2 separate regions of the Homo sapiens genome follow, and region 1 is reported to be linked to region 2. The links are microRNA targets in miRTarBase. Many come from high-throughput screens and were not tested one by one. Region 2 holds a microRNA gene; the other region holds the end of a gene's coding sequence.
The links. Region 2 holds the annotated microRNA hsa-miR-767-5p (UGCACCAUGGUUGUCUGAGCAUG, at 2,398-2,420, shown strand). A microRNA usually pairs through its seed, bases 2 to 8, with sites in the 3' UTR of a target mRNA and lowers its output. Matches are read on the target gene's strand: a 7mer-m8 pairs with bases 2 to 8, a 7mer-A1 pairs with bases 2 to 7 and ends in A, and an 8mer does both.

Region 1 (4,000 bases), not on the chromosome of region 2:
TAAGCCAGGGAGCCGAGGTCACCAGACCCTCAAACTGGCTCTGACCCTCCTAGTCCAGCATGTCCCCACGTGGCTGTCTCCTTGGCGGTGCGCTGGTGTCCGGTCATAACTGGGGCTCCCGCTGAGAGCCCCGTGGCCCAGGTGGGAGGGCTGGGGTGGGCCTCAGCCTGCCAGCGGGAGTCACCACCTTGCCCGGTCTGGCCACAGCCTCCAGCAATAACTCTGAGGGTGCACCCGTCCCCTCCCTTCCAGCTCGCGGGCCTTTTCCAGTCGGACGACAGTCACGAAACCTGTTCCTCCAAATCTGCTTTCCTGGAGAGGGGAGAAAGCAGCCAGGGAGAAAAAGAAGAACGCGATGAGGAGGAAACGTGAGTGTGAGCGAGGAAAGACTAAGCGCCTCTTTGGGCCACGGCGTCTCTGACTTTCTTCTCGGAATTGCAGGGCGACCCGCAGCACCGAGGAGGAGCGCGCTGGGGCGTCCACGGGCCGGCTGGCTCCTGCGGGGGCGACGGCTGGTTTCCAGGCGAGGGCGCTGCGCCCGAGGACCTCCGCCCAGGAGAGCTGACCTCCCTGCGGACGCCCCCGCTCCTCGGCTCCAGAGCGCCCGCATTCCCGGGAGAGGCGGTGTGGGGGCCCGGGCCCTGCCCAGCTACGCAGAAAGCAGCCGGAGCCTCGGCGGCGGCAGAAAGGGGACAACCAGGGCCTCCTCCGAGGAGCCCGAGGGGTGTCCTGGGTGCGCGCCTAGCTCCGCACGGGGGACCTCGGAGCTGCTCTAAGGCGCCTGCAGAGGCGAGCAGAGCCCGCAGCCCACGCCTTCTCGACCGCGCACTTCGATATTCGGAGCCGGGCAATTCTTTGCTGCGTGGGCTTCTCTGTGCTCCCACGGTAGGATGTTTAGTAGCACCCCTGGCCTCTACCCACTAGGTGCCAGGAATGCGCCACCCCATCCTCCACCCCGCCCCCAAATCGTGACAATCAAAAATGCCTGCAGACACGCCCGCATTTCTCCAGGGCGGGGTGGGAATCGGTTGAGAGCCGCTTAGCCCGAGCCTTGGAGGAGCCGGAGCCGCTCCAACCCGGCGGGGGCCGCAGACTGGGAGCTCCCGGTCCGCCTCCCAGCATCCCTGCGAGCGTTCATGGGGTGTTCGTGTTAGTGCCAAGATTGCTTCGTTGTAGAGAGAGTTCGTTCCAAGTTACTTTCTGAGGTATTTTATGTATCGATTTATTAGTTTTTAAATGAGTTTTGTTAGTTTCAGTTGTATTTTATTTTTAGTTTTATTAGTTGATTTTCATTTCTTTGTAGCTTTCTGGTTATTTAATTTTATAGTTTCAGTTACTGGTTTATAGTTACTTTATTTTCAAAGTTATTTAGTTGTTCATTTTCAGTTATTTATATGTAGTTGTTTTGTTTTAGGAGTTACAGATGTTCAAATTAATTTGCTTGGAATTTATTTATTTATTTATTTATTTATTTTTCGAGACGGAGTCTCGCTCTGTCGCCCAGGCTGGAGTGCAGTGGTGTGATCTCGGCTCACTGCAAACCGCCTCCCGGGTTCACGCCATTCTCCTGCCTCAGCCTCCTGAGTAGCTGGGACTACAGGCGCCCGCCACCACGCCCGGCTAATTTTTTATTTGGATTTTTAGTAGAGACGGGGTTTCCCCGTGTTAGCCAGGATGGTCTCGATCTCCTGACCTCGTGATCCCCCTGCCTCGGCCTCCCAAAGTGCTGGGATTACAGGCGTGAGCCACCGCGCCCAGCCGGAATTTATTTTTAATTATCTTTACAATTATTATCTGAGTTATTTACCTTCATAGTTATTTCACTTTATCTTATTGGAGTTTTTGAGTTATTTATTTTTACAGTAACTTATTTGACTATTAAACACTCACTGGAAGTTCATGAACTACTGTCAAGTTATTTATTTTCAGAGTGAAATGTTTTAATGAAGGGTTTCCCCTAGTTATCTGGTTTTCGAGTTGCTTATGTTCACAGGTATTTATTTTCAGTTATTTTATATTTGAGTTGTTTATTTTTATGTTCTTTTTTTCAAGTTACTTGGTTTTTAGTTATTTCATTTTCAGCATTACTTCATATTTGAACATTATATTTTCTGAATTTTTAAAGAGTTTTTGAGGTATTTAGTTTTTGAGCTATTTTCAGAGTTATTTATTCTCAGTTATTTCTTTTCAGCTTTGTATTTGCCATTCAAATTTTTTTTCTGTTCTTTATTTAATTGTCAGATTTTTTTTTCTTTTTTTTTTTTTTTGAGATGGAGTTTTGCTCTTGTCACCCAGGCTGGAGTGAAGTGCCGCAATCTTGGCTCACTGCAACCTCCGCCTCCCGGGTTCAAGCAATTCTCCTACCTCAGCCTCCCAAGTAGTTGAGATTACAGGCACCTGCCACCATGCCCGGCTAATTTGTTGTTGTTGTTGTTGAGACGGAGTCTCTCTCTGTCACCCAGGCTGGAGTGCAGTGGTGCAATCTCGGCTCACTGCAAGCTCCACCTCCCGGGTTCACGCTATTCTCCTGTCTCAGCCTCCTGAATAGCTGGGACTACAGGCATCTGCCACCACGCCTGGCTAATTTTGTTTTGTATTTTTTTTTTTTTTTAAGTAAAGATGAGGTTTCACCATGTTAGCCAGGATGGTCTGGATCTCCTGACCGGGTTTCGCCATGTTTGCCAGGCTGGTCTCCAACTCCTGACCTCAGGTGATCCATTCGCGTTGGCCTCCCAAAGTGCTGGGATTACAGGTGTGAGCCACCACACCCGGCCCTCAGAATTATTTAGAGTTAGAATTCTTAGTCTACTAGTCAAGTTTCAATCAAGAGACACTGTATCAGTTATTTCAAGAGAGAATTTAATATAAATAATTGTTATCCAGCTAGTAGAGATTTAAAAAAAAGTAGTGATAATGAGATATCATGAAGATTTTGACTGCAAGCTCCCAGCCCAAGGACTCATACAACAAAGAAAAGAGGTTGAAAATATCAAAACTCAGAAATATGAAGGTGGCCCTAGGGCTGGGGGTTAGTCCTCTGAGGAGGAGGCACTATTAATTGTACACGTGGCCCAAGGGCTCAGAGCTCAAGGTCCAGGAGCTGGACGCAGAATTCTGGAGAGGGGACATGGCCAGCCCGTGCTGCTGTCTCTGAATGGGCATCAGCAGGCTGGTTATAGGAGTGCTAGGAAAATGGCAAGCTGGAACCAACTCCCGCTACTGGAACCAGCTGTCACTCTCAGGGTGGAGACAGGATGCTGACAGTGGGGGTGGGGTGGGGTGCACACAGGAAGGAGCCCATGGTGACCCTGCACCCCAGAGCTGGGAAGGGTGGGCTGGAAGCTTAATTACCAGCACACTCAGCTTTAGAGTTACATAGAGTTATGTTAGGATTCCGTTAGTTTTGGAATTGTCAGGGGTGATTTGATTTCACATTTTCATGGGATATGGGATTGGGATGAGTCTTCAGTCTCCTGGTTTGTTTCTGGAATAGAGTGGGCCACACCTCCCAGGAGTCTCCCCCAGGGAACTCAAGACAATCACTTTAGAATTCAAGAAAACAAAAATAATGTGTCTCACTTCGTTCATAAAGAAGGCCTTTGACAACGTGGCCAAAAAGGGGCAGAGCCTAAGGGACAGACTCTTAGAAAGATGCCCTTGGAACAGGGTCCCGCAGAGTGTTCCTCTCAAATTCTTTAGAACTTTACACTGTTTTGTGGGGCCACCCTCTCCCACGCCCTTTCCTAACAACAGTGTCTTTCTTGATAGAGTATGTTTCAAATTTGTAGACTGTTTGCACAATAAAATAAAGTTCCTCCCAAATCAAGAATCTGTAATCTTAGGTTCTTCTACCTGCATTATTCTTCAGCCCACATTGTTCCATTTGACCATCAGAATGTTTACATATGTATATATGTCTGGATGGATGGAAGGATGGATGGATGGATGGATGGATACACTTATTTTATTCAATATCTATTTCCTGAGCATTCCCCTGCCC
Region 2 (4,153 bases):
CGAGGAAGCACTACAGCTTAGTTCTCTGTTCATATATCACTGATGTTTGAGATTGATCTGTGATTGACCAACTTCTATGTCATGGTTATCACACTGTGCAGCATGTTACTAGCTCATATATCAGTCATGTCGGGCTCCTACTTCAACATTGCTTTTTGCTCTTGTACTATATCCAACTGTTCCTGTATTTTGCGTATTTACAGCGATATAGTCTTGGGATATAGTCTTCTCTATTATCATTCATTACCTCACATTTTATGGTTGTTAAGTTGTGCACCATGATCAGATGCTCAAACAAAAGAGCCATCTGAGCATATGGCATGAGGTGTCATTTTGCACCACTGTCATCTTATCCTTAACTGAAAACTTGATTCAGTATTGTGGATATCGGATAGGGACATGCGTCTGAATGGATACCACTCCTGAAGGATAGCCAACTGCTTGTGTATTTTATGTGTATACTAATTGATTCTCTGTGTATACATCATAGATATTGCTCACCCATCATTAATGTGTAAAAAATAAACATAATCTCCTTCTGTGTGGAGAATGATAACTTTAATAACATGAATATTAGTTCCTGAATTGTGGTCACTGGCTCCTGCAGAATGGGTATTTTCTCCATATTTGCTGTCTGTTCCTGTATCATGCTTACTAACTGTATCATAGCTGTTAGTTTGTGTAATGGGATCGTTTGGATTTATATCATGCCCAAACACAAATGTGTAGAGTCAATCACCATGGTTATTTTTTTTATGAGTCATTATGTCCATGTGAGTCTTTTTTTTGTACCACTGTCATCTTCTCTTGGGCCAAAGTCATTAATTGCTTGCATGGTTATTTTTGATTACATACCATATCTACCCAAGTAAGAATCACACCATGTTTTATTTCCATATCATGTCCATCTGCACCTGTGTCATAATTGATAGCCTATGTCCTGTAGGTGTCTGACTGGACCTCATGAACACATATTAAAACATGCTTTTTGGCATCTTATTCATCTGAACATCCTGTATTATTTTGATCTTCTTTTTGACAAAATGCCATACATACCCGTATTTTTTGTATCACCTGAGCAGTTTTTACTCTGTGATTCTTTCCTGGGATACCATATCTATCCCCTTTTTCATGTATGAATTGACCTATTCTCCATGATAATATAAACATACATAATGAATTTGTGCTCATATACTGTGATTGAAGTTGTACTACGTATTTAAACTTAAACACCACACTTGTGTGAAAATACACAATCATTGTCTACTTGTACTGGGAATGAGTATTTTGTACTATGTATATTAATTTCTACACCATGTCTTTCACTATTGTGATGAGTTTTCTCTGTCCTTTGTCATCTGTCTACTCCCTATAACCTGGTATCAGCTCATGTTGCAGATCTTCTGTGTGTGCATCGTGGTCAAATGCTCAGACTCCTGTGGTGGCTGCTTATGCACCACGGATGTTTGAGCATGTGCTATGGTGTCTACTTTTGCAACATTGCCATCTGCTTCTGGAACAAAGCCACTCATTTTTCTGCTCTGTTTTAAAATCTGGTATCATGTCTGTCAGAAGAATCACAGCATATTGTCATTTATTGTCATATTTACAATAATGGATAGTGGAGCCAAAATGACTGAATTTGAATCCTGGATTATCCACTTACTAGCTATGAGATCTTGGACACATCAGTTCATGAAATGGACACATCAATTCGTATCTTCATGCTTCAGTTTCCTGCAAAATGACAAAAAAAGTAGTAAGGTTATTGTGAGGATTGTATAAGCTATTATACATAAAATATTTTTAATACTGCCTGGCAGGTAGTGATGATGATGATAACAATGATGATGATGATGATGACATGACAATGATGATAATGATACTGTGTCCCTTGATCGTGTATAATAATTGTCAGCTCAAATTCTGGAGTTCTCTAAGTGTGCATTATGGTCAAATGCTGATACTTGTGATAGTGTTTAAAGCATCATTATATAAGTATATGCCATGGCAGTCATTTGAATCGTTGCCATCTGTAGTATTCTATTAGCTACTGCACTATCGTTTTCTGCTATTTTATTATCAGCATCTTCTTCAATATCCTTGTTCATCTGCTCCTATATTATGGTCATCAGCTTATTTTTGTTGGGATATCTGGGTGTACATCGTGGTTTAACAGTCAAATATTAGTGTTAGTTGCTCATGCACCATGATTGCCTGAGTATGTGCCATGATATCTCCTCCAGCATCATTGTCATATGCTGTTTGCCTAAATAAGTTGTATTCATGTGTTATGTTTCCTTTATTCATATGTCCTGTCCATCTGGGCATATTCCTCATTGTGTTATTCACTCTTGTATCACACCCACCTGCTTTTATATTGTAGGTTTTTGCTCATGCACCATGGTTGTCTGAGCATGCAGCATGCTTGTCTGCTCATACCCCATGGTTTCTGAGCAGGAACCTTCATTGTCTACTGCTTTACAGGGAAATAGTGTTTTATGCATCGTGTATATGAGTTTAGTATTTACTCATATTCTATGACTCTCTACTCTTAGATCACTTCTGCCTTTTTCTGCACATTGTTTATCTGTTCCAAAAAGACAGATGTTATCTCATGTCACTGGGCTTTCTAATTGTACATCAGTCAAATGCTTAAATGCCTATGATGTGATGGCTGTTCATGCAACATGGCTGTTTCAGCATATATCATAACTTCACCCGTTTAATCATTGCCATCTTCTCCCAGACTAAAGAAAATAATGATTTTTAATCACCAACCATATCCGTTTTGGTAATCATGGTTTCATGTCTACCTGCTCCTGTATCATTCTTTTACTTTATGTCGTGGGATTGTGTAGGTAGCCATCATAGTCAAATGCCCAAATACTAGTGGTGGCTGTTCATGCAATGGTCATCTGAGTATATGGTGTCAGGTCTCTTTTGACATATCTGACATCTACTCATGGACAAAGCTGTTTACCCCTGTACCGTGGCTCTTGTATAAGGCACAATATCTGTCTAAGTAAGCACCACAGCATGGTTTTATTCTCCGAAAACAAGTTTGTGTGCTGTATCTATCTATGCCTCTTAGCTCCTTTGGCATAAATGCTACGTAATAGTGTAAACTACTTTTGTGTACCTGTGTAAGTCAAGATCAAACAGTCAAATATCACTAATGGCTTTCATCAACTTTTGTCTGAACATGTTACACGGTGGGTCCTCTATGCACCTTTGCCACCTACATTTGAAATAATCATTCATGTATTGAGATGTTTTGATCTTGTACTATATCCATCTATGAGGTCTCCACTTATGATTATTTTCTCATAAGATGTCTCTTGGCTCTAAGTGAGCCCTGGCTAATTTTCCATGGTTGTATGAATGTGCTTATGCCCTTTAGCTATGGTCTTCTGCTCATTCATCATGATTTGTGAAAATGCACCATCGTTGTCTACATTGTACTAAAAATGGAATTTTCTGTACCATGAATATAATTTTGTGCACCATGATTTTTTGTCATACAGTGTGTTTGCCTCCTTCTTCGTCCTCAGTATCTACTCCTATATATTGGATGTCAGCTTCTGTTGCAGAACCTGAGTGTGCATCGTGGTCAAATGCTCAGACTCCTGTGGTGGCTGCTCATGCACCACGGATGTTTGAGCATGTGCTACGGTGTCTACTTTTGCTACATTGCCGTCTGCTTCTGGACCAAAGCCATTTGTTCCTGTGCTCTGTGTTTCTAATCTTGTATCACATCCATATGAGGAAGCATGGCACCATCAGTGTATGTGCACAATGCTCACTGCTTGGACTTAAATCCCAGTTCTCCTATTTAATAGTTTGAAATTCTTGAGGAAGTCATTTCACCCTTCTGTTTCTGTTTTCTAAACTGTAAAATAAATAATAATACCTCATAGAGTTGTGAGGATTCAAAGATGCACATGTAGAATGCTTAGATTAGTGCCTGACACATATAAATGATAAGTATTTGCTGATATTGTTATATTATTTGTATTATGTCTCTTTATTCTTTATCATGACTTTTAGCTTGCATTCTGAGAATGTCTGGTTGTGTACCTTAGTCACATGCTAAATTACTGGTGGTGGCTGTCCATTCAGCATGGTCGTCTGATGTTATACCTTGGTTTTT

Region 1: the mRNA of MCF2L2 is a reported target of hsa-miR-767-5p. The part of its 3' UTR that is shown has no 7-base or 8-base seed match.

Annotation. Positions count from the first base shown.
Region 1 is chr3:183,175,945-183,179,944 of GRCh38, reverse strand. It overlaps MCF2L2 (MCF.2 cell line derived transforming sequence-like 2), which reads left to right. Exons shown (of 30, transcript NM_015078.4): 29 at 253-368; 30 at 442-1,904. The coding sequence ends at 565. Among named protein-coding and RNA genes, the nearest start is that of LAMP3, 15 kb to the right of the region's middle. RefSeq lists a silencer at 595-684.
Region 2 is chrX:152,391,748-152,395,900 of GRCh38, reverse strand. It overlaps MIR767 (microRNA 767), which reads left to right and starts at 2,372; the gene lies at 2,372-2,480. All of the region lies in intron 1 of GABRA3 (gamma-aminobutyric acid type A receptor subunit alpha3), which reads left to right. It overlaps MIR105-1 (microRNA 105-1), which reads left to right and starts at 3,602; the gene lies at 3,602-3,682. It overlaps MIR105-2 (microRNA 105-2), which reads left to right and starts at 1,409; the gene lies at 1,409-1,489.